4 separate regions of the Homo sapiens genome follow, and regions 1, 2 and 4 are each linked to region 3. Evidence: fine-mapped expression QTL. A gene starts in region 3. Each other region holds a variant in brackets. All regions are shown on one strand. Distances are between the middles of the regions.

Evidence for each region. PIP is the estimated chance that this variant, and not a neighbour inherited with it, causes the effect. A credible set is the group of variants that fine-mapping cannot tell apart.
Region 1: its variant is the best candidate, but not a certain one, in a credible set for the expression of E2F3 in whole blood (INTERVAL, PIP 0.88).
Region 2: its variant is the best candidate, but not a certain one, in a credible set for the expression of E2F3 in whole blood (INTERVAL, PIP 0.88).
Region 4: its variant is the best candidate, but not a certain one, in a credible set for the expression of E2F3 in whole blood (TOPMed, PIP 0.90).

The regions. Positions count from the first base shown.
Region 1 is chr6:20,472,887-20,478,683 of GRCh38, reverse strand. All of the region lies in intron 1 of E2F3 (E2F transcription factor 3), which reads right to left. Among named protein-coding and RNA genes, the nearest start is that of E2F3-IT1, 38 kb to the right of the region's middle. The variant G/A (reference allele first, on the strand shown) is at 2,912.
Region 2 is chr6:20,506,628-20,512,424 of GRCh38, reverse strand. No RefSeq gene overlaps it. Among named protein-coding and RNA genes, the nearest start is that of CDKAL1, 25 kb to the left of the region's middle. The variant C/G (reference allele first, on the strand shown) is at 2,195.
Region 3 is chr6:20,399,644-20,405,440 of GRCh38, reverse strand. E2F3 (E2F transcription factor 3) reads right to left here and starts at 3,562. Exons shown (of 7, transcript NM_001949.5): 1 at 2,816-3,562. The coding sequence starts at 3,208. LOC124901482 reads left to right here and starts at 2,669. Exons shown (of 3, transcript XM_047419652.1): 1 at 2,669-3,016; 2 at 3,061-3,172; 3 at 3,279-4,700. The coding sequence starts at 2,669. The coding sequence ends at 3,886. RefSeq lists silencers at 1,608-2,227, 2,428-2,897, 3,748-3,987 and an enhancer at 3,125-3,649.
Region 4 is chr6:20,421,754-20,427,550 of GRCh38, reverse strand. The region is part of intron 1 of E2F3 (E2F transcription factor 3); the gene reads right to left. It also overlaps the pseudogene RN7SL128P. Among named protein-coding and RNA genes, the nearest start is that of E2F3-IT1, 13 kb to the left of the region's middle. The variant T/C (reference allele first, on the strand shown) is at 2,634.

The DNA.
Region 1 (5,797 bases), 73 kb before region 3:
GTGCACGCCACCACTCCCAGCTAATTTTTGTATTTTTAGTAGAGACGGGGTTTCGCCATGTTGGCCAGGCTGGTCTCGAAGTCCTGATCTTTGGTGATCTGCCCACCTTGGCCTCCCAAAGTGATGGGATTACAGGCGTGAGCCACTGTACCCAGCCGAGAGTTGCAATTTCAAAACAACTCCCCGTGATGTGAAAACGTAAGTAATAACTTATCAGCGGAAGCTAGATATTCAGCCCCTCTATGGAAAGTTACCAGCTAACCCTGCACCGTCTACTACGATAGCCACTGGTTACTAGCTCATCCAAACTGACATGTGCTATAATTGTAAAATACACACTGAATTTCGAAGACTTAGTACAAAACAGGGTAAAATATCTCAACAATTTTAGTAGTGATCACATGTTAAATGAAATAAATAAAATACAACTGACCCTTGAACAACATGGGTTTGGACTGTCCGTTTCCACTGATTTTATTTTTTTAGAGACAGGGTCTTGCTCTGCCGCCCAGGCTGGAGTGCAGTGGTGTGATCTCAGCTCACTGCAACCTTGTCCTCCCAGGCTCAAGGAATCCTCCCATCTCAGCCTCCTGAGTAGATGGGACCACAGGTGCACACCATGATGTCTGGCTAATTTAAATTTTTTTTTTTTTGGGTAGAGATGGGGCCTCTGTATGTTGCCCAGGCTGGTGTTGAACTCTTGGGCTCAAGTGATCCTCCTGCCTCATCCTCCCAAAGTGCTGGGATTACAGCCGTGAGCCACTGCACCCGGCCATGAGTGTGTCCACCTATATGTGGGTTTTCTTCTTCCTCTGTCATCCCTGAGACAGTAAGACCAACCCCTCCTCTTTTCTTTCACCACACCTTCCTCAATGTGAAGATAACGAGGATGAATTTTATGATGATCCACTTCCAGTAATGAATAGTAAATCTATTTTCTCTTCCTTATGATTTTTTTTTCATCCAGCTGCTTTATATGCCCATATGCCTTCTACACTTTGAACCCTGGACCAAGTTCAGCTGCTAGGAAACGCAAATTCCAGAGCATACCTAAGATGCATTGGATCAGAAACTCTGGGAATGGGGCTGAGCAATCTAACAGGCCTTCCAGGTGATTCTGATACACCTTAAAGTTGGAGAAACCTGGCTTTAGATCATAAGGGAAAAGAGTAAGACACTCAGGCAAAGCCCAGCTCTGCCCAGCACGGCCTATTTCACACACCCTCACCTCTAGTCCTGCTTGGCTGATGAGGGAAATCTATCCTGTGGATTCCACTTTCATTCATTCCAAACTTTCTTTTATTGATAACATTTCCTCTCTAACTTCATTGTAAGAATACAGTATATAATACATATACCATATGAAATGTGTTAATGACTGTTTATGTTATTGGTAAGGCTTCTAGTCAACAGTAGGCTATTAGGGCTGGGTGCATGGATCACACCTGTAATCCCAGCTACTCAGGAGGATGACTTGAGGCCAAGAGTTCAAGACCAGCCTGATCAACGTAGCAAGACCCCCCATCACTAAAATAATAATGAAAACCCCAAACAACAGGCTATTAGTTAAGTTTAGGGGAGTCAAAAGATCTATCTAAATTTTTGACTGTGTCAGGGCACCTCTAACCCCAATGTTGTTAATGGGTCAGATGTAGCATTAAAATTATTTCATCTGTTTCTTTATATATATATTTTACGATGTGGCTTGCCTCAGTGGCACACCTTATCTTTCTACTGCAGTGCTAAGTTAAACATCATTCTAATGGCTCCGGAAGGACAATCTGCTTGCTGGACTTCATCTTCCCCTCCCAGCCATTCTGTCAAGTCCTTGTGTGGGCCTGCTGTGGTTGGTCCAGCAAACATTCACTCTTTATCAGGCAGAAGCTCCCTGTTTGTTCCTTGGGGAGCCATCCCTTTCCTGGTCTAAGCGCATCTGTGCACACAGGTGATCCAGGCCTGGCTAATCATTGTGGCCCATCCTGCCCTCCCCGCCCCCACCGCGAACAGGTTGAATGGCTTATGACCAAGGCTGGAGGAGCAAAGGCTAACCCCAGGAATGTTTCTGGAACTATCTGGCAAGAAGCAGGTATGTCTTTCCAGTAAGGTTGGTAAGTGAGGAGCCTAAAGCTGCCTGAGAATGGGGCCTTCCCAGGGGAAAGCAGAGTGGAGAGAAGGAGAGAGAGGGGTCTGAGACCACCACTCAAAACTCTGGCTCTGGTCATGCCCTGGGGGCAACTGTTGGTCTTTCCCAGACTTTCCAGTTACATTAGCCAATAAACTCTCCTTTTTGCTTAAAGCATTTTTTTTTTTTGAGACCCGGAGTCTCGCTCTGTCACCCAGGCTGGAGTGCAGTGGTGCAATTTCAACTTATTGCAAGCTCCGCCTCCCGGGTTCATGCCATTCTCCTGCCTCAGCCTCTCGAGTAGCTGGGACTACAGGCGTCCGCCACCACGCCCGGCTAATTTTTTGTAGTTTTAGTAGAGACGGGGTTTCACCATGTTAGCCAGGATCTTCTTGATCTCCTGACCTCGTGATCCGCCTTCCTCGGCCTCCTCAAGTGCTGGGATTACAGGCGTGAGCCACCGTGCCCAGCTGCTTCAAGTGTTTTGAGTCGGGAACCTAGAATTGTGCTGTTGCCAGTGACAGCTTATGGAACTGGCTGAGTCAAGATGGCTATGGTGTGACAGGGAGTTGGCAGGCCTTGTTAGAGAGTGGCAGAGTGTGTTGGTCACTTCTTGTGACCGCCAGGAAGATACTACAGATAGAGAGAAACTTCATCTGAGGCTGGCCCGCCTCAAAGAAAACAGCTTTGCTATGGAGGCCTTCTCTACAGAAAGCAATCTAAGGAGACATAGAGCTGTATTCTCTGCCCAAATTAAAGTCAACAAATGGGCTGGGCACAATGGCTCAC[G/A]CCTGTAATCCCAGCACTTTGAGAGGCCGAGGTAGGCAGATCACCTGAGGTCAGGAGTTTGAGACCAGCCTGGTGAAACCCTAACTCTACTAAAAATACAAAAAGTAGCCCAGCATGGTAGCATGCACCTGTAGTTCCAGTTACTTGGGAGGCTGGGGCATGAGAATTGCTTGAACCTGGGAGGTGGAGGTTGGTGCCTCCGCAATCCAGCCTGGATGACAGAGAAAGACTCTTGTCTCAAAAAATGAAAATAAAGTGAACAGAAAGAAGGCAAACTTGGAAAAGAGTCTGGGACCCAGAACTCCTAGGGACCTAGGGCCGTGCCTCAGCAGTAAAGAACCACCCACTGGTCAGCAGGCTGGGGGCATACTAGTTTTATCTCTCCCTCCCAGGCTGCTGTTTCAGACTGCCATGAGGCAAAGGCCTATGGAACCATTAAACTGTAGGTTAGGGAAATTTCCATGTCTGCTGCTAAGTGACTGAGACTTAACTTCGAAAGACCGGGACTAGTCTTCATGTGTAACTCTCGTTACTAAGCACCAAACCATAAATTGACCAAATTTGAATGCTAGATGGACAAGCTACTAAAATTGCAAGGCACTTTTATTGCGAAAGAATCACTAAGTCTAGAAAGTGAAGGTCCATGATGTTGAACCTCTAAGGAAATCAATCACTAGGTCCAAAAGCCACGCCAGAAATAAGTGAGGTGTGAAGAAGGGGCAGCCCCAGAATTCCTCCCAGGAGGTGGAACTTGGGGTGGACTTATAGGCTCTACAAACTGCTGTCCCTGTGGAGGACATGACAAGAAGCAGGAGGTGAGCACTTTATGTCATTTCCCCTTTTCAGAAGGGAGGTTCCCGTTGGGTTATCCTGTTATTTTTCCTCCCCTGTTGAGTGAACAGGGAGGGCGGAACTGGATTTGTGGGGACCACATATTACCTGTTTGGTCTCAGATCTGAACATGGGTGCAATAATTAGAATCTCTTGAAAAAGGGCTAAGAATTTTGATATTTGATGGAGCAGCATTATTTTAATGCTTAACTTAGCAAATTCAAGCACACATGCCTGGTAAAACAAAAAACTATATGACAGGATTTAAATAGTGCGGGTGAGCTCTGTCTACACCACCCTGCCCTGGGCTGAGCACCAGGGTAGATGGAAATCTCTTCTCTTGGTCATCTCAATTTTTGTTAGTTCACAGCGTGAGCATCGTACTGATTGGAGAGGTATTCATTGTTTATGCACAGATCTTTACATTACATGGCCCCTACCAGTAAAACAGCCAACTTATCCAGTAATCAACAGAAGGATGGGCCATTTGGTTCCAAGCAGTGGTAAAGCCTGGCTCTGTGAGATTCTGTGTGGAACTCCATGTGGCACCTTCCGGCAGTACTTTCAAGGGTAACTTGTACTATAAACAAGGTATGTGCTAACGTTAAAACCTCAGCCCCATGGACGTTAACATGCCTCTGCAAAGAAACAGTTGTACTGGTAAGCAGTTCTGAAAATCTATGTAGGAAAATGTATGTAGTTAGAGCTGGGTGCAATGGTAATGCGCCTGTAGTCCCAGGTACTTGGGAGACTGAGGCAAGAGGATCACTTGGGCCCAGGAGTTTGAGACCAACCTGGGCAGCACAGCAAGTCTCCCATCTCTCTCTCTCAAAACGAAAAAAAACCACAAAACCCCAAAAGAATTACCACTGGAGCCAGTGGGGAACATCTATAGTCTGCCTGCCTGATATTTGTTGCCCCTATTTTTTTTCCACTGGGGAAGGAGCTCTACTGATGTTCTTAGTTTCTATTAGTCTCCAAGCATGAAAAGACAAGACTTGAGACTGATCAACATTAGGACGACTCTTCCCATCAAAGTTGCAGAGGTGAGTACTGAATCCTGGCCTCAATCCCAAGGCTCAAGTGTCTGGGGTAAAGATGAGACCATGACCAATGCAGGAAGGGTCAGTCAATCCTGGGATTTTTCTTGGGAACCACTGGGAAAGTACTGGGTTCTTTTCACTGGGCATTATTAGGCCAGTAGGGTGCGAGCCTGGAGCTACTTGGGAAGTGAGCCAACACAGAAGAGCTGGGGAAAGGCTGAGTCCCAATCCCTTCAAGGGAGGTGCTAGATACAGCCATACCCAAAGGCACACATGCCACAGACTTTCATTTGTGTGAGCCCACAAATATCCCTTTTTGGTATAAGGCAGCTGAATTAGATTATTATTAATACCACTGATAGATACAGACCTTTAGTATTAATTATTACACAACAAATATTTGAGTGCTTATAATATGCTACGCACCATGTTAACTGTTTTCCACTCAATTTTGTTATCTTATTTTCACAACACCCTTAATAAGGTGGCTATTATTAATTCTTATTTTATAGAAGAAAAGGGAGGTCTAGTGTGATTAACTGACTTTTCCAAGATTCTATAGCCAGTAAGCACACCTACAAGTCCATGCTTATAACTACTTCATGAAAAGATTGTGAAAAGTCCCATGTAAAAATATTTGAATAGCTAGATTAAGTTGATATTGCCTTAATGACACACTTTATTTTATTCCTGATTTAAAAACTCTTCTTTACATATAATAAATGTATATGGTAATTTAAGCAGCATAAATGAGTATAAATGGAAAGCAAACTTTCTCCCTACTCCTGATCCCAGTTCCCTTCCTCAAAGGCAAGCACTATGAAGTTACTTGGATATCCTTTCAGATAGCTATATACATACTTGTATTTACCTAGACTATCTACCATCCCATCTTTAAAAAGTTTTTCCCATAAATCGTAGCAAAACACACACTTTTCTATTAATAACATATGTCCGAGTTAGACCTTATCAGAACACATGGAATGATCTCATTTCTCATAGCTGCATAATA
Region 2 (5,797 bases), 110 kb before region 3:
CACCGTGTTAGCCAGGATGTCTCCATCTCCTGACCTTGTGATCCACCCGCCTCGGCCTCCCAAAGTGTTGGGAGTACAGGCGTAAGCCACCGCTCCTGGTCTACCTTTGTATTTATATATTCCCATCCCACATTGAATATGGCAGACTAGTATCACCAACAGGATATTGACAAAATGACACTGTGTGATTTCTGAGGCTACATCACAGAAGACATTGTAGCATATGCCTTGTTGTAGCTCACTGCTCACTTACCTCCCAGGTCCCAGTGATTCTCTCTTGGATCATTTGCTCTGGGGAAGTCGATGGCCATGTCATGAGGACACTCACTTAAGTAGCCCTATGAAGAAGTCCACATGGGGCGGATCTGAGCCTCCTGCCAACAGCCAGTACAACTTGCCAACTATCAGAATGAGCCAGCTTGTAGTAAATCCTCCATCCCTAGACAAGCCTTCAAATAACTACCACCCTGGCTGCCACCCTGACTGCCACCTCATGAAATACCCAAACCAGAACCACCCCAACTAAGCTGCTCCTGAATTGCTGACTACAGAAACTGTATGAAAAAATAAATGTTTACTTCTGTTTTAAGACAATAAGTTTTGAGGTATGTAGTCATGCAGTAGTAGATTAAAGCAGACATTATAAGAATCCTAATTTGCTGTAATAACAATAACACTGTTCATTAAGGGTATTGTCTGTGAGTTTGGACAAGTGACTTAACCTTGCTATACTTCAGTTTTCTCATCTGTCAAAAGGGTCTAATAAGGCTTGGTCAGGTGGCTCATGCCTGTAATCCCAGCACTTTGGGAGGCCAAGGTGAGTGGATCGCTTGAGCCCAGCCTGAGCAACATAGCAAAACCCCATCTTTACTAAAAATACAAAAAACTGGCCTGGTGTGGTGGCATGTGCCTATAGTCCCAGCTACTCAGGAGGCTGAGGTGGGAGCATCACCTGAGCTTGGGAAGTCGAGGGTGCAGTGAGCTGTGATTGAGCCATTGCATTCCAGCCTGGGTGACAAAAGTAAGACTCTGTCTCAAAAAAAATCCATGTCTCAGAATGTCTATAACATTAAATTATATAATAGATATAGATATTTTAAAGAATAAAATAAAATCATAGATAGCATATAATAGAAAATAAATGTCATCCATTATTATTTGCTGTTCTTTTTTTTTTTTTTTTTTTTTTTCTGAGATGGAATCTCACTCTGTTGCCCAGGCTGGAGTGCAATGGTGTGATCTGAGCTCACTGCAACCTCCGCCTCCTGGGTTCAAGCAATTCTCCTGCCTCAGCCTCCTGAGTAGCTAGGATTACAGGCGTATGCCACAACATCCAGCTAATTCTTGTATTTTTAGTAGAGATGGGGTTTCACCATGTTGGCCAGGCTGGTCTCGAACTCCTGACCTCATGATCCGCCCACCTCGGCCTCCCAAAGTGCTGGGATTACAGGTGTGAGCCACCACGCCCAGCTGCTGTTCTTTTTTTAATTTTAAAAAATGTTTTTGAAACAAGGTCTCACTCTGTTGCCCAGGCTGGAATGCAGTGGCCTGACCACAGCTCACTGCAGCCTTGAAATCCTGGGCTCAAGGAATCCGCCTACCTCAGCCTCCTGAGTAGCCTCCTGGGGCTACAGGCACGCCTCATGGCATCCAGCTATTTTTTTCTTTTCTTTTTTTGAGACAGGTTCTCAGTATGTTGCCCAAGCTGGTCTCAAATTGCTGGCCGCAAGTTATCCTCCTAGCTCAGCCTCCCAAAGTGTGAGATTACAGGCATGAGTCACCACGCCCAGCCTGCTGTTATTCTTATTACTATTATTTTTTCTTTTTTAATGTTAATTTTAACCAAATCTGCTTCTCCTTCTGTTTTTCAAAATCCATTACTAACACAACCCACACAGTTAAAACAACAACAGTCAAACACATCAGAAACCTGGACATTATCCTTGACTGATTTTACTTTTCACTCTTCACATCCAATCAATCATTAAGTTCCAATGACTATATCTTCTAAAGACTTTCAGAGTATTTCCTTTATTCCTACTCCCACTGCCTTAGCTCAGGTCCCCATCAACTCCTATCTGGACTATTAAACAGATTCCTAAATGGTTCCCTGCCTCTAATCTTGTTTCCCCCAAATTGTTTTTCACACTGCAGCCAGTGATCTATCTACAATACAAATATAATAAAACCATTC[C/G]CCTGGTGAAAACATTTCCCTGGTCCTCTGACAACTGCAGAAGGCAGTTGCTCACACTGCTCACTCGCCTCCCAGGTTCCAGTGATTCTCCTGCTTCAGCTTCCTGGATAGCTGGGATTACAGGCATGTGCCACCACACCCGGCTAATTTTTGTATTTTTAGTAGAGACAGAGTTTCACCATGTTAGCCAGGCTGGTCGCAAACTCCTGACCTCAGGTGATCTGCCTGCCTCGACCTCCCAAAGTGCTAGGATTACAGGCATGAGCCACCATGCCCAGCCCGCTGTGGATTCTTACTTATGCTTCAAAATTCGACCCAAGCCTTCTTTTCTCCAGGAGAGAACTAACCAAATAACTAAATAAATTAATAAGATTTCTCAGATGGCTTAGTTTGGGTTAAGTCTCCTTTCTTTAATGTACAATATATATCTGAGGTCCAGGTAAAATATTCGGGACACCCTTATACCAAAAAATTACTCATTGTTTTTCTGAAATTCAAATTCAACTAGGCACCCTGTTTTTGTTTTCTGAATCTGGCAACACTGTCTCCTCACTTTCTATTATATATTGTATAGATTTTATCTCTTACATATATATCCCTCCCTTGGAAGGACTTGCAAGAAAGGGACTTAGTGGAAATCTCTTGCAGGAAGGAACCAGGTCTTTTTTAATGATTTATTTATTTATTTATTTATTTTTTAAATCTCTGATTCCCTAGTGGCTGGCAAATTATCTGACACACCGGATACATTAGTTAGAATCTTCTGGTTGCAAGTAGTAGAAACAAACTCAAGCCCAATTAAGCAATGAAGGATTTATGGTAATGAGAATTCCAGAGCCAGAGTGCAGCTGGCTTCAGGAAGCCCAGGAACCCATTGCTCTCTCTTCTCTCATCTGTTTCTCTCAATGCCTGAGCTCCCTTCTTCTCTAATTGCCAGGCGTTTCTCTGCTATTCAATTCACTTGGAAGATAGCTGAGCAGCCCTCCTGATGGCTACATCTCCTTCATTTGAGATAGACACTAATATCTCTTAACCCCAATTCCAATCTCTGGGGAGGGTACTGGGTTCAGTCAGTTGAGTCTAGGAAGGGAGGGTTGTGTAATAACAGGGCTCGCCTGTGACTGTGTAGAGTATTTTTTTGGTTTTTAATGTTTTTTGGGGGGACAAGATCTTACTCTGTCGCCTAGGCTGGAGTGCAGTGGTGTCCTCATAGCTCACTGTATCCTCAAACTCCTGGGCCCGAGGGCTCCTCCTGCCTCAGCCTCCCAAGTTGCTGGGATTACAGGTGCACACCACCATGCCAGGCTAATTAAAAAACAACTTTTTTTAGAGATGGGGTCTTGCTATATGTTGCCCAGGCTGGTCTCAAACTCCTGGCCTCAAGCAATCTTCCAGCCTTGGCCTCCCAAAGCACTGGGATTATAGGCATGAGCCACTGTGCCCTGGCCTCACCCTGTGGTTTGATAGTGGAGGAAGAACAGACACTGAGAAGGTTTCTACTGCATAGATGCTGTATTAGTCAGGGTTCTCCAGACAACAAAGCCCATAGTATACGTGTGTGTGTTTGTGTGTGTGTGTGTGGTGTGTGTGTGTGTGAGAGAGAGAGAGAGAGAGAGAGATTGAGAGATTGAGATTATAGAGGCTGGTAAATGCAAATATTTAGGTTGGGCTGGCAGACTGGAGACCCAGGGGAGAGTGGATATTGCAGTTCAAGTCCAAAGGCTGTCTGCTGGCAGAATCCGCTCCTGTTCCAAGGTCAGTCTTTTGTTCTACTTGCCTTCATCTGATCATGTGAGACCCACTCACATCAGGGAGGGAAGTCTGCTTTACTCAAAATCCGCTGATGTAAATGTTAATCTCAACGAAAAACACCCTCATTGAAACATCCAGATACTCAAACATTTGTGGAATTGAACTACTTTTGTTGCCTACTACATTTAAACAGTGTTGCTCTGTGAAGAACCTCAGATAAATTGTGATCTCAGAATCTCAGAACCAAGAATAGTTAGGCCTTCTTCTGAGCCTTGGTTTGTTTTATCCCATAAACTCTGAATCATGTAATATATCATATTTCTCTCTTTTGGTTCTAGAGAGGTTGGACTTTAATTAGTGTTTCTTTTCTAGCAAATGTGCAGTACCTTACAGATGCATTTTATACACTAACCTCATTCCTGTGTACATATTACCTTCAAAACAATTCTCATTTTTCATTTCTTAATTGCCTCACTAATTTGTTTTTAAGTTTATTTAACAGGACTTTATGGGAAGAGTGTGAGTTAATAAAGAAAGCGCTTGTCAAAATTCTTGATCTCCTTTTCCTTGAGCCAAGACCAATGTCTTTCATTTTTAATGATTCTAAAATGAGCAGTTTGTAGTCTTTCAAAAGTCCTCATATGACACGATTCCCACAGCCCTTCCATTTCAGTAGTCCTGTTTACGGGTTTAAAAGAAGCCCAGCATGTATCATCAATCTCTTACCATTCGAAGCATAATGAAAGTCAAGTGCTCAATGCTGCAAAACATTGAGCTGTTAAACACCTCCAGACATTTTTTTTTACCAGCTTAAATTGCTCTTCTTTTACCATCTTAAAACATATGCTCTTTTCCTCAGATCTTCAAAAATGTTGACTTCTAAAAGTGGGCCTTTGTTCTGGGGTGGTAGAGCTGAAAATCGAGGCAAAAATAAGAGAAGAGCTGAGAGCAAAAACAGAGCCAAGAGAAGAGGGTCTTTGAGATGACATCTGAATCTGTTCAATAAACATGGCTGGCATAGCTGGGCGCGGTGGCTCAGGCCTGTAATCCTAGCACTTTGGGAGGCCGAGGTGGGTGGATCACCTGAGGTCAGGAGTTCGAGACCAGCATGGCCAACATGGCGAAACCCCATCTCTACTAAAAATACAAAAATTAGCTAGGCGTGGTGGCACATGCCTGTAATCCTAGCTACTTGGGAGGCTGAGGCAGGAGAATCAGTTGAGCCCGGGAGTGGAGTTTGCAGTGAGCCAAGATCATACCACTGTACTCCAGCCTGGGTGACAAGAGCAAAACTCTGTCTTAACATAATAATAATAATAATAATAATAATAATAATAATAATAGCTCTATATAATTAAGTGTAGGAGATTACATTGCAACCACTATATTTTTGGTAAATGCAGCAATAGGATATTCACTATGAGTTGAGGTTTTCCATGTTGTCCATTTGGTGTCCCTGAAGCAGTCCTTGAGTGCAGCAGCTTTACAAAGTACATGCCAAAAAGGAGGAGGCCAGAGCATCATCTCCATTTTTACTTCTGTTATCATGTTACTCCCTTGCCCTGATTTAAAAAAAAAAAGTAGTCCTGGCCAGGTGTGGTGGCTCATGCCCGTAATCCCAGTACTTTGGGAGGCTGAGGCAGGTGGATCACTTGAGGTCAGGAGTTTGAGACCAGGCTGACCAACATGGCAAAACCCCATCTCTACTAAAAATACAAAAATTAGCCAGTTGTGGTGGCTCAGCCCTGTAGTCTCAGCTACTCGGGATGCTGAGGCAGGAGAATTGCTTGAACCTGGGAGGCGGAGGCTGCAGTGAGCCTAGATCGTACCTCTGCACTCCAGCTTGGGCAG
Region 3 (5,797 bases):
CGGGAGGCGGAGGTTGCAGTGAGCCGAGATCGTGCCATTGCACTCCAGCCTGGGCGACAGAATGAGACTCCGTCTCAAAAAAAAAAAAAAAAAAAATGCAGATAACCAATGATTCAGCATACATTGCAATCATATAAAAAATGCTTCTGAATATGTATATGAGTAACATTTATATTCCTGTAATGAAAAACCTTTTGTGTGCACATAAACTCAAAAGGATATTATTATTCCTGGAATAATAATTTCATGTCAAGGAGAATAAAGTTTTGAAATAACTTGGAAGATGGTGAGGGTAATTTAGTATACTTTAAATACTTAAATACAATGAACTAGATATAATAAACCTGGCTTGAAAGATAGTCTTAGGGACCTGGCCCAACAAACACTGTTAAAATTTTTTAAAAATCAACTTGAAGCTCTCATAATTTCCCATTATCAAAACTACCCCCTGCAAATCTGTGAATCTAATCCAAGAAGTATGTCAATAGCTGGTTGTTTAAGGTTAGGTTTATGAAATAGTAACAGAACTGTGCAGGGGTCAAATATGCTTAAAATATGTCCAAACATGCTTAGGTCAAGTCAGTAAGAGTATCTGAAGCTAATAAAAGCATGGAATATTCTTGCGACTGAAAACCCAGCACACCGGATACTGCTATGTCTAAGCAGGTACTGTGCTCCGTTTCCCCCCTGCTGGCAGACCCTAGTCACTAAAAAACGATGAGCTTCTTTGACTAAGACTACATCACACATGCCCAGCAAGTATCTCTGGGGCTGGAAAGCAGTTAAGACCGAACCCGGGGAGAAACTGGGAACAGGAAAGAAATAAAAAACGCCTCATTATTCCCAAACCCATCCCATTTCCCAAAGTGCTGCCTATGTGCTGACTTTCTTAAAGACTCCCGCAAAATCTTGATTCTCCAAAAATTAAACCCATTTGGAGCTGAGACAAGGTGAGGTCCACGCCTGGTATAATCAGGCTACCATGGATCTAACTGAGTCTGGTTCGGTTCTAGCCCCGTGGAGGCCAAGCCTCACCACGAGGGTGAAGACCCGGAGGCATGGAGGAAGGGAATGAAGGAGAGAAAAGGAGAAAGGGGAGACCTCCGGGCCACACTTCTTTCTAGTACCAACAAAAAGAGAAGCCGCATACTGACCTAAATCATCTCTCAAAGGCGCTTTATAAATTACAGGGACAAAGGGAGGGGGTGGCGGGTGGCCTGGGAATCCTACAGACACCCTACCCTCTGACCCACCCCCCTCCCCCTCCAGCACAAGGGAAGGAAGACAGAAAACAGAGCTCAACTCGGCCATTGGCGAGAAGCCCCCTCCGGTTTTCTATCGCCCATCCATCCGCCCCCTAGAAAAAAAATCCACGTAAACACCATACCCACCCCCTGGGGCAGACACTCCCGCCCCGAGGTTCCTAGAACCGGAGGCCGGGGCATTTACTTAGTTAGATTTTTCTTGCTTACTCATTTCCCTCGAGCACCCAACCCCCCGTTCCCACTCCAAAACCCCGCTCAACCGCCTACCCTCACCGCTTCAGCCCCCAACAGAATCCGGTGCCCCCGCGGCGTCGGCGGCCCCCGAGCCGTCCCGGTCACTAACCTGCTGCTGTAAGGGCATTTCCGAAACCAGCCTGGCTCCGGGGGGAGGTGGGGGGCCGGCTGGAGAGGGGGCCCGGAGGGCCGAACAGACCGGCGGCGCAGGGCGAGGGCGGGCGCCGGTGGGGGGGTGGGGAGAGGAGAGGGAGGGTGGCGGTGCCGGGGGCGGGTGCGAGGGCGCCGGGACCGTCCCAGGCCAGGGAGCCGGCGAGCAGGAGGAAGTGGGTGCCCCCCTCTCCCCCTCCAGCGCCCCCTCCCGCCGCCGCCTCCTCCCCAGTCACAGGCGCGTCCTGCGCGCACGTGTGCGAAACGTCACCGGCGGGTCCCGGAGAGAGGGACAGACCCAGGCGGCGGGACGGGAACCCAGCTGCCCCCGCCCTCCGTCGCCGGGGGGCGGAGAGGGGGACAGGGCGGGGAAGGAAGGGGCAAGGGGAGAGGCGGGTCAAGGGCAGGCCCGGGGCCCGGCGAGGAAGGCCTGGGCGCTTGGGCCACGCGGGCGCCGCCGCTGCCACTGCCAGGATGCGCCCAGGCCAGAGCGCCAGCCCGCGAGCCCCTCACCCCAGACAGCCCACGCCCCAGTCCGCACCCGGCTTCCAGCCCCACCTCCCCCACGCCCGACTCCCCTCCACCTCCCCCAGCCCCTTTGTTGCCGGGAGTTACAGATCCTAAAATGTGTCAAGCGCAGCCCCGCCGATCCCCTGCGCTCCGAGCACGCCGCAGGGACCCCCGGCCGCCAACGAGCCTCCAAGGCCGACTGGGGGCTAGCACCCCAACAGTCCCCCGGTTTCAACCCCTCAGAGCCCCCCACACCCCAGTTCACTACTCCCTCCCCCACCCCCTTCTCCATCCGGGGCGTGACCCCTTCCTACGCCCGAGAAAGAGGAAGCTTCGAGTTGGAGGGGAAGGGAGAGTGGGGGTAGGGAAAAGTGCAGGAAAAGAAGGGGGGGCCGCGAAAAGTTTTGGAGTGTTTGATGTGGTTCGCGCCAAGGCAATCCCCGCCGCCCCGCGCGCCTGGCCGAGCCCCCCGACCCTCCTGGCGCCGGGAAGAGCACTCAGGTCTAACAATGAACCCTCGTTGGAGGGGCAGCCCCCGAGGCCCACGATGCTCGGCCCAGTGCTCTCCCCGAGCGGCCCGCAGCGCGCCCACGACCCCGCGCGGTGCGAGCCCACCTCCCGCCGGGGCTGGGGACGGTGGGGAGGGAGGGTATTACCGGAGGGCCGCCGCCGCCGCCGCTGCCGCCGCGTCCCAGCGCTGGTGGCTGCTGCAGCAGCCCGGCTCTGCTGGAGGGTCCGTGCGGCGTGGTGTAGAGGAGGCTGCCGGCGGTCTGCTCCGCGCCGGGGGCACTGGGGAGGAGGGGGCCGGCGGCTACGGCGCCGCTTTGGAGGGAGGAGGAACAGGAGGTGGTGGAAGTGTTCGTGGTGAGGATCTGGATGTACGCGCCCGGGGCGGCGGCAGCGGCGGCGGCGGCGGCGAAGCCGGGGCTGGCTAGCAGTGCCCTTTTGTCCATGGAGGCTGCAGCGGCGGCGGCGACGACAGCCGCCCCCTCCCCACCCCCGGCGGTCACCAGGTACTGCTCCAGAGCGGGCTGGATTCCCTTTCTCATCTCTCGCTCCTGCTCTTTTTAGTGTTATGGTATATTAATGTATTGTTTTCAATTTCTTTATTATTTGCAGTCGGAGTTTCCAAGTCTCTCCTCCTTCTCTCCTCCCCGCCCGGCGCTTCCGAGCCCCCTCTCTCTCTTTTCTTTTTATTTTTCCGCACCGCACAGGCCCCGGGGGCCAAAAATAATCGGGGCTCTGGAGAGAGGAGGGTCCCGGCCGCACGGATATCGGGCCCCAAGCGGGGATGGAGGCGTCGGGGGCGGCCGATGCAACGGATTGCGAGGCGGCGGCGGCAGCCCGGGTGCTGCGGCCGGCAGCTGAAAAATGGCTCCAGGAAGCTGCTGCTGACAATGAATGAAGGGATACGGTTTACGCGCCAAGGTCCTCCCGCGAAACTCGGATTTCCCGCCGGCTTTTCAAACCATATTTGCATATCCCCGCCCCTCAACCCGCCGAGGACCGTTCCCACAGCCCATTGGGCCGCTACCTCCTTACTTCAGTCCCAATCATGGAGCAGGGCCGCGACTTGCTGGTTTCCATTGGCTGCCGTGCATCATGGTTACCGGGGCGACAGGGACCCTATTTGCATAGGCCTCCTTGATTGGCTGGCAGAAGAGCAGTTTTTAGGGGGTGGGGCAAAGAATTTCCTTCTCTCCCACGGAAGACCACGCCTGGCCTAGGCTCCGCCCCTGTCCCCGCCCGCCCGCCGGGCCGGCGCTACTGACCTGGGCAGGGACTCCGCGCCCCGCAGACTCAGTGTAGATCTAGTCTAGAGCCCAAGTTTCGCTTTTGGAAATTGTCAAGGTGACTAAGGGAACACTCTTTCCTTTGACCAGTCAGTGCAATAAACGAACAGCGCAGGAGATTTTTCCAGATACGTGCCAAAGGCAAGTTGGACCATGCGGACGATGTCTGGCAGGTGCAAAAGGAGCCCTTTAAATCGTGGGCTTCTCCCTTCCTGAAATCCAACCAATGACGCGGCGAGAGCTGATCCCGAGGCCGGGGCTGATAGACAGAAGCATGTGGGCAGACAGAATCGTGGGGGCAGAAGGTTCAGCAGACGCGATTGCGGGCACCAGTTAACATTCCAGATCATTCCCGGTACCTTCATTATTAGCCTGGATAGGGGTAAAGTACAAATTAACTCTTTTGTCTTACAACGGATATTGGTTTGAATCCAGCAGACATTCCCTCTGGCCCAGAAACACCCAGGGCAGTTAATCAGGGCTAACCTAGAACTGATCTACGGGTTTCTAATCCGCCAAGCAGTAATCCGAAAAAGTACACGCTTCCCACGATGACGTCGTGCCCCCAACGAACGCAGGCACGCCCAGGCATCAGCACTTTATATCTTCAGTTTTGTAGGAAGTTCTCTGACTGGAAGCAAACACAACGACTCAAACCTATCCCAAAGTATTTTTAAAATAGTGTCTTTTTTTAAAAAGTAAACTAGAAATTGTCATCAGAAAAATATAAAATGATGTGTCAAACTGACTCCTGAATTTGTTCAAGTATTCATGGGTCTTAAAATTAAAGCTTGCTCCTGAGATTGAGCAGGAAAAGAGACCCCTGCAGGAATGTGGGGGAAGTTATGTATGTAGAGACTAGATCATAATTTATAGTTACGTGCAAAACAGCTGCAGAATTGGTGCTCATAGGTGATGAGGATTGCAACACCTTGAGCCCTTTCACAAGATTTTTATTACTATTATTAATTTCCCAAAACTCTTACTCAGAGTGCTATGAAACACCTGACAAGATGTGTCAGATCAGGCTAGGACTCCTTAATATTTTAGCCTTGTTACCTTTTCTGAAACAGATGAGTTAAAAGTTCCATTAAACCTTGCACCAGGCTCAGGAATATTTTAGTCTTGCATTCAGGCTAGTTGAGGATCCATAGCCCTAAACATTTGTCGACACTGGTAGAGGTGACACTATCTTTATTTTTTGAGACAGAGTCTTGCTGTTGTTGCCCAGGCTGGAGTGCCATGGCACGATCTCAGCTCACTGCAACCTCTGCCTCCTGGGTTCAAGCAATTCTTCTGCCTCAGCTTCCTGAGTAGCTGGGACTACAGGTACGTGCCACCACGCCCAGCTAATTTTTGTATTTTTAGTAGAGACAGGGTTTCATCATGTTGGCCAGGCTGGTCTTGAACTCCTGACCCTAGGAGATCCGCCTCCCTTGGCCTCCCAAAGTGCTGGGATTACAGGCATGAGCCACCGCGCCTGGCCAGAAGTGACACTATCTTTAGGGCAGATTAAGTGGTACTCAAAGGGCATGAGCTAGAAGTGTAATATACCAGCAGCTTCCCTGCTCTTGTTCCATCAATGTTGCTTTCCTCTATGGATATACCTGTGGAAGAAACTAGTACTGTCACTACTTGGATATTACCATCTGCAGAGCATCACTGGCAGCTTGCATTTGGTGGCAGTAGTGGGGGTTGTGAGGGAGGAGTGGTGCAACATACACAGTAATTATAGACCTGCGCCTTATGATTAGAGACCAGCCTGGGACTGGGGCTGTGCATAGAATCCTGGCTTGAGCTCCCCACAAGTGATTGCAATAAGATAAATACGACACAGCCACAAGA
Region 4 (5,797 bases), 22 kb before region 3:
GCCTTAGAAATCACTTTTATTTGACAAATGAGAAACTGGAGCCCTGAGGTGAAAAGAATTGATCCCACCCAACCTGCCAGGTCCCTGGTGCCTGACTACACTGCAAACCCCAATGTAACCCCTGCCCTGGCCGACCCTTCTTCCCTAAGCAGATTTTGCAGGAGTAGTTTCAGGACCATATTATTGTTCTGAACTTCTAAGAGGAAAGGGCCAAATACAAAGTGTTTGGTTAACTCAGTCAATGGAGCATAAATGAGATGTTTAAATCTTTGAGTTACAAAGCCTCATTAGGGTAAGAAGGCGCTGTAGGAGTGGACATAGGGAGGGTTTGTGATTCCCATTATATGATAAGAAATGCTATTAGGCTGGAATCAGTTCGATATGCCCAGGGAAGGCAGGCAGGAGTGGTAGTGAACATTTGTCTTCTTATTATATATGCAAAAACCCCAGCTAACATTGTACCTTATGCAGAACTTTTCATTCTCAGTCACTTTTACACATATATTACCCCATTTTCTTCCCCCAGCATCACAGTGGAGAAGGTATGGATAGGTGGTTTGGGGTGCCAATAAACCATAGACTATTTGAAGAAAAAAAATGTCTCACCCATAGTTTCATGGAGCCACATTTAGATTCTAGGTCTAATTTCAACAGATATCAGCACAGTGGAGCTACAGTTACAGTGGACAGATCATTTGTCAAGAATGGAAAAAGCCAGGATGCCAGGGCAGTTGTATTGGGGGGGATGGGAAGGAAGAAGTGAAAGTCTATTTTAAAAGAAATGTAGAGAAAAACTGCTAACAGAGCAGGCAGAGTTCAAGTTTAAGCCCTGGGCATGAGGGAAAGCCCAGTCAGCTGAGGCCATGCCAACACTTCAGGGTTACAAGCACCACTGGTCACCAACAGCACAGCCCTGGAAGGCCCATGTGTGGCCACGATCCCACAATGACACTAGGTGGAGATCAGGCAGATACCACCAACAGAGAGGCTGGGAATGGAATAAGATATTTCAGCCATAACTGCAGACGTGAAAAACAAGATTGGGGCGGCAAGTGCTAAATAAATCACAAAATAATTATTCATTTACCTCTCAGTCTGGAAGTAAACCTATGCTTTCACAAAATTAAGAGTGCAATCATGCAGTAAAAACAAGAAATCTTTGATTAGGTGCCTTCTATTGTGTAATACAAAATTGGATAATGTAGACCAAAAAACAATAAATGAATGACAAAGCAAAACTATATATTTTTATAAAAGACACTAAGATTTAATTCCCCTATACTTACACCAGTAATTGTTGAAGAAAAGGTAAATTAAAGGACTCAGGATATGAAAACAAACTTGATCCCCACCACCACTGCCAATTAATTACATGCACATGAGAAATTCACTAAGCAGCTAATCATTTATATTCTGGTGTAGTATTTCCGCACAACTATTGTATTAGATATTTAAATTTGCAATTTCAAATGGACTCATTGTCACAGGCCTCTTAGTCCATTTTACACACAAAATCAATACACTATTCCTAATAAATGAGATTACTTTTCCAAAACTCCCAGTGGGAGCTCAACAGGACTTCTGTTTGGGAGGCTGCTTCAAACTTCTCCAAAGAAAATTACTTTTCTGATGTTCACCTCTAAGAACCAACAGAAGGCACCTGAGAGAATTCAAATGAAGAAGCAACCACCTCGGGGGAAGGGAGGGCTCAAACTGTTAGGTAATTTAGACACATGAATGTCCCAGTTTAAATGCCACTCTATAGCAAAGCATTTCTGGATCCACCTGAGACCTCTGTTCCTCCACTAGAGAGCTAAGACACGTTGTTGCATTTTCTTCTAAAAGGTAGAAGGGGCCGGGCGCAGTGGCTCACGCCTGTAATCCCAGCACTTTGGGAGGCCGAGGCGGGGCGGGCGGGCAGATCACCTAGGGTCAGGAGTTCAAGACCAGCCTGGCCGACATGGTGAAACCCCGTCTCTACTAAAAATACAAAAATTAGCCAGGCATTGTGGCGTACGCCTGTAGTCCTGGCTACTCAGGCGGCTGAGGCAGAAGAATCGGTTGAACCCAGGAGGCAGAGTTTGCAGTGAGCCAAGATCGTGCCACTGCACTCCAGCCTGGGTGACAGAGCGAGACTTTGTCTCAAAAAAAAAAAAAAAAAAAGTAGAAGGTTCCTGGGGTTGTGCGCACAGCTCCTCCCAGCCTACTGCCCCATTCTGAATGTCCAGGGCTGTGTATTCCTCACCTTTGTATTCCAAACCACAGACCCAACTCTAGAAAAGAGCCGAGGAAGGGTTACAGTGTCTGGCATTAAAAAAAAGCACTGGGTAAATAATTTCTCTCCCCACTCACTTAAACTTTAGCCTGTGGTCCCAACTTGACTTGTATCCTAAATCTGAACAAATACCCTTGGCAAAGCCAAATTTTTCAACTCTTGCTGCCCCAATGGATAAATCCTTTAGAGAGATCTTGCTAGGTCTTCCCTTCATGCAATAAACACTCTACTCTGTAAAAGCCACTGACCGCCCTGCAGGACATGGAGAAACACCTGATAACCCGCCCTAGACAATGGCCTGCCCTCGTCATGTGAGAAAACCCCACGTGTCTGGGTTGCATAATGGTTAAGAGAGGTT[T/C]CGAAATTTCCTGGACTTGGTCTGGAACCCTGGTTCTGCCAATGTCCAGAAATGCAGCCTTGGACAAACTGCTTCATCACTGAGCCTCACTTTCCTCATCTACAGATGAGGATATTGGCACCAACTCTCAAGGTTTGTTGTATCAGATGAAAGAAAAAATGTAAACAGCTTACTGCTATTCCCAGTGCAGTAGACTATCTAATAAGTGCAGAGAGTTTTTTTTCTTATAACCCTAAACTCACAGTGGATGGGGGAGAAGAAGCTCAATTTGTAAAAATGCAAGTAAGCATGAACATAAAAACTGTAATTTTAATGAAAAAAAAAAGTATGTAACAGGAAGCAGATTTTCCTTATCTATAGCAAATCATATCACAAAGCTACTGTATTCAAAACAGTGTGCTGCTTCTTTACAAAGGGATAAAGGTATCAATGGAGCAGAGTAGAAAGTTCAGAGACAGAACAACACAGACACACATGCACACAGCACATACATGCATGTATGCATGTACACACACACACACACACACACACACATACACACACTCTCTCTGTGTCTCTCTGAGAAAAGGGCATTTCAAGTGCATGCGTGGGGAAAGCGGAACCATCCAATAAATGGCACTAGTTTAACTGGCTATTCGTTTAGGAAAAATAAAGTCACACCTTTAAAACACACACACACACACACACACACACACACACACACACACCCTTCCACTGAGGTTAAAGATCAAAATAATAAAATTATGAAGCCAGGAGAAAAAATATATAGAATATTGTTATGGTTTGCAGATTAGGAAAGGCCTTCCCAAAGCAAGCCACCAAACTCAAACTGTAAAAGCTGTAATTTCGGCTGTGTGCAGTGGCTCACACCTGTAATCCCAGCACTTTGGGAGGCCGAGGTGGGTGGATCACCTGAGGTCAGGAGTTCGAGACCAGCCTGACCAACATGGTGAAACCCCATCTCTACTAACAATACAAAAAATTAGCCGGGCATGGTGGCAGGTACCTGTAATCCCAGCTACTCGGGAGGCTGAGGCAGGAGAATCGGTTGAACTCGGGAGGCAGAGGTTGCAGTGAGCCAAGATCAGGCCATTGCACTCCAGCCTGGGCAACAAGAGCGAAACTCTGTCTCAAAAAAAGCACTGTAATGGCCGGGTGTGGTGGCTCACACCTGTAATCCCAGCACTTTGGGAGGCCGAGGCAGGCAGATCACGACGTGAGGAGTTCGAGACCAGCCTGGCCAACATGGCAAAACCCTGTCTCTACTAAAAATACAAAAATTAGCTGGGTGTGGTGGTGGGCGCCTGTAATCCCAGTTACTTGGGAGGCTGAGGCAGGAGAATCGGTTGAACCCAGGAGGCAGAGGTTGCAGTGAGCCGAGATCGTGCCATTGCACTCCAACCTGGGCGACAAGAGCAAGACTTGGTCTCAAAAAAAAAGCACTGTAATGTCACATGTAGTCATCTGCCAAACAATGATGCTTTCAGTCGACAGCAGACTGTATATATTCCAGTGGTCCCATAAGATTATAAGACTGTATTTTTACTATACTGTTGCTATGTTTGGATACATACCACTGTGTTTAAGTTGCCTACAGTATTCAGCCCAGTAACATACAGTACAGGTTTGTAGCCTAGGAGCAAGAGGCTAGACCATAGAACCTTGGGGTATAGTAGGCTATACCATGAGGTTTGTGTAAGTACTCTCTATGATGTCTGCAAAATGATGAAATTTCCTAATGACACATTTCTCAGACTATATCCCCATCGTTAAGTGACACATGACATTATAAAAACTAAATAAACATATGTAGAAAGAAATACATCATAGAAAAATCAAAAGAAACATAATAGGCTTGGGCAAAACAATACAGGGATACCACATTTCATTGTGCTCCACGGATACTGCAGTGTTTTACAAACTGAAGGTTTGTGACAACCCTGCATCAAGCTAGTCTATCAGCACCATTTTTCCAACAGTGCTTACTACATATCTCTGTCAAATTTTGGTAATTCTCGTAATATTTCAAACTTTTTCATTACTATTATGTCTGTTGTGGTGATCCGTGATCAGTGATCTTTGATGTCACTATTGCAATTACTAATGTCACTAAATAATGTTTAGTAACAATATATAATGGCAAACTTAATTGATAGCCATTGTGCGTGTTCTGAATGCTCCACCTTCCAGCTGTACCCTGTCTCTTACCCTCTTCTCGGGCCTCCCTATTCCTTAAGAAACAAGAATACTGAAATTAGGCTAATTAGTAATCCCACAATGGTCTCTTAAGTGTTCAGGTGAAAGGAAGAATCACACATCCCTCCCTCTAAATCAAAAGCTAGAAATTATTAAGCTTGGTGAGGAAATGTACGTCAAAACCTGAAATAGGCAAAAAACTAGGCCACTTGTGCCAAATAGTTAGCCAGGTTGTGAATGTGAAGGGAAAGGTCTTGAAGGACATTAAACATGGTACTCCATGAACACACAAATGACACGAGAACAAAACAGCCTTATTACTGATATGGAGAAAGTTTGAGTGGTCTGGATAGAAGATCAAACCAGCCACAACATTCCCTTAAGCCAAAGCCTAATCCAGAGCAAGGCCCTAAATCTCATCAGCTCTTTTGACGGCTGACAGGTGAGGAAGCTGCAGAGGTTGGAAGGTAGCAGAAGTTGGTTCACGACCTTTAAGGAAAGAAGCCTTCTCCATATCATAAAAGTGCAACGCGAAGCAGCAAGTGCTGACATAGAAACAGCAGCAAGTTATTCAGAAGATCTAGCTAAGATCACTCATGAAAGTGGCTACCCTAAACAACAGATCTTCAATGTAGATGAAACAGCTTTCTATTGGAAGATGATACCACTTAGTACTTGCATAGCTAGAGAGGAGAAGTCAATATCTGGCTTCAAAGCATCAAAAGACAGGCTGACTCTTTGGTTAGGGGCTAATGCAATTGGTGACATTAAGTTGAAGCCAATGATCGTTTACCATTTCAAAAACCCTAGGGCCCTTAAGAACTATGCTAGATCGCCGAGCGCGGTGGCACATGCCTGTAGTCCCAGCTACTCAGGAGGCTGAGGTGGGAGGATAGCTTGAGCCCAGGAGTTCTGGGCTGTAGTGCGCTATGCCGATCGGGTGTCCGCACTAAGTTCGGCATCAATAT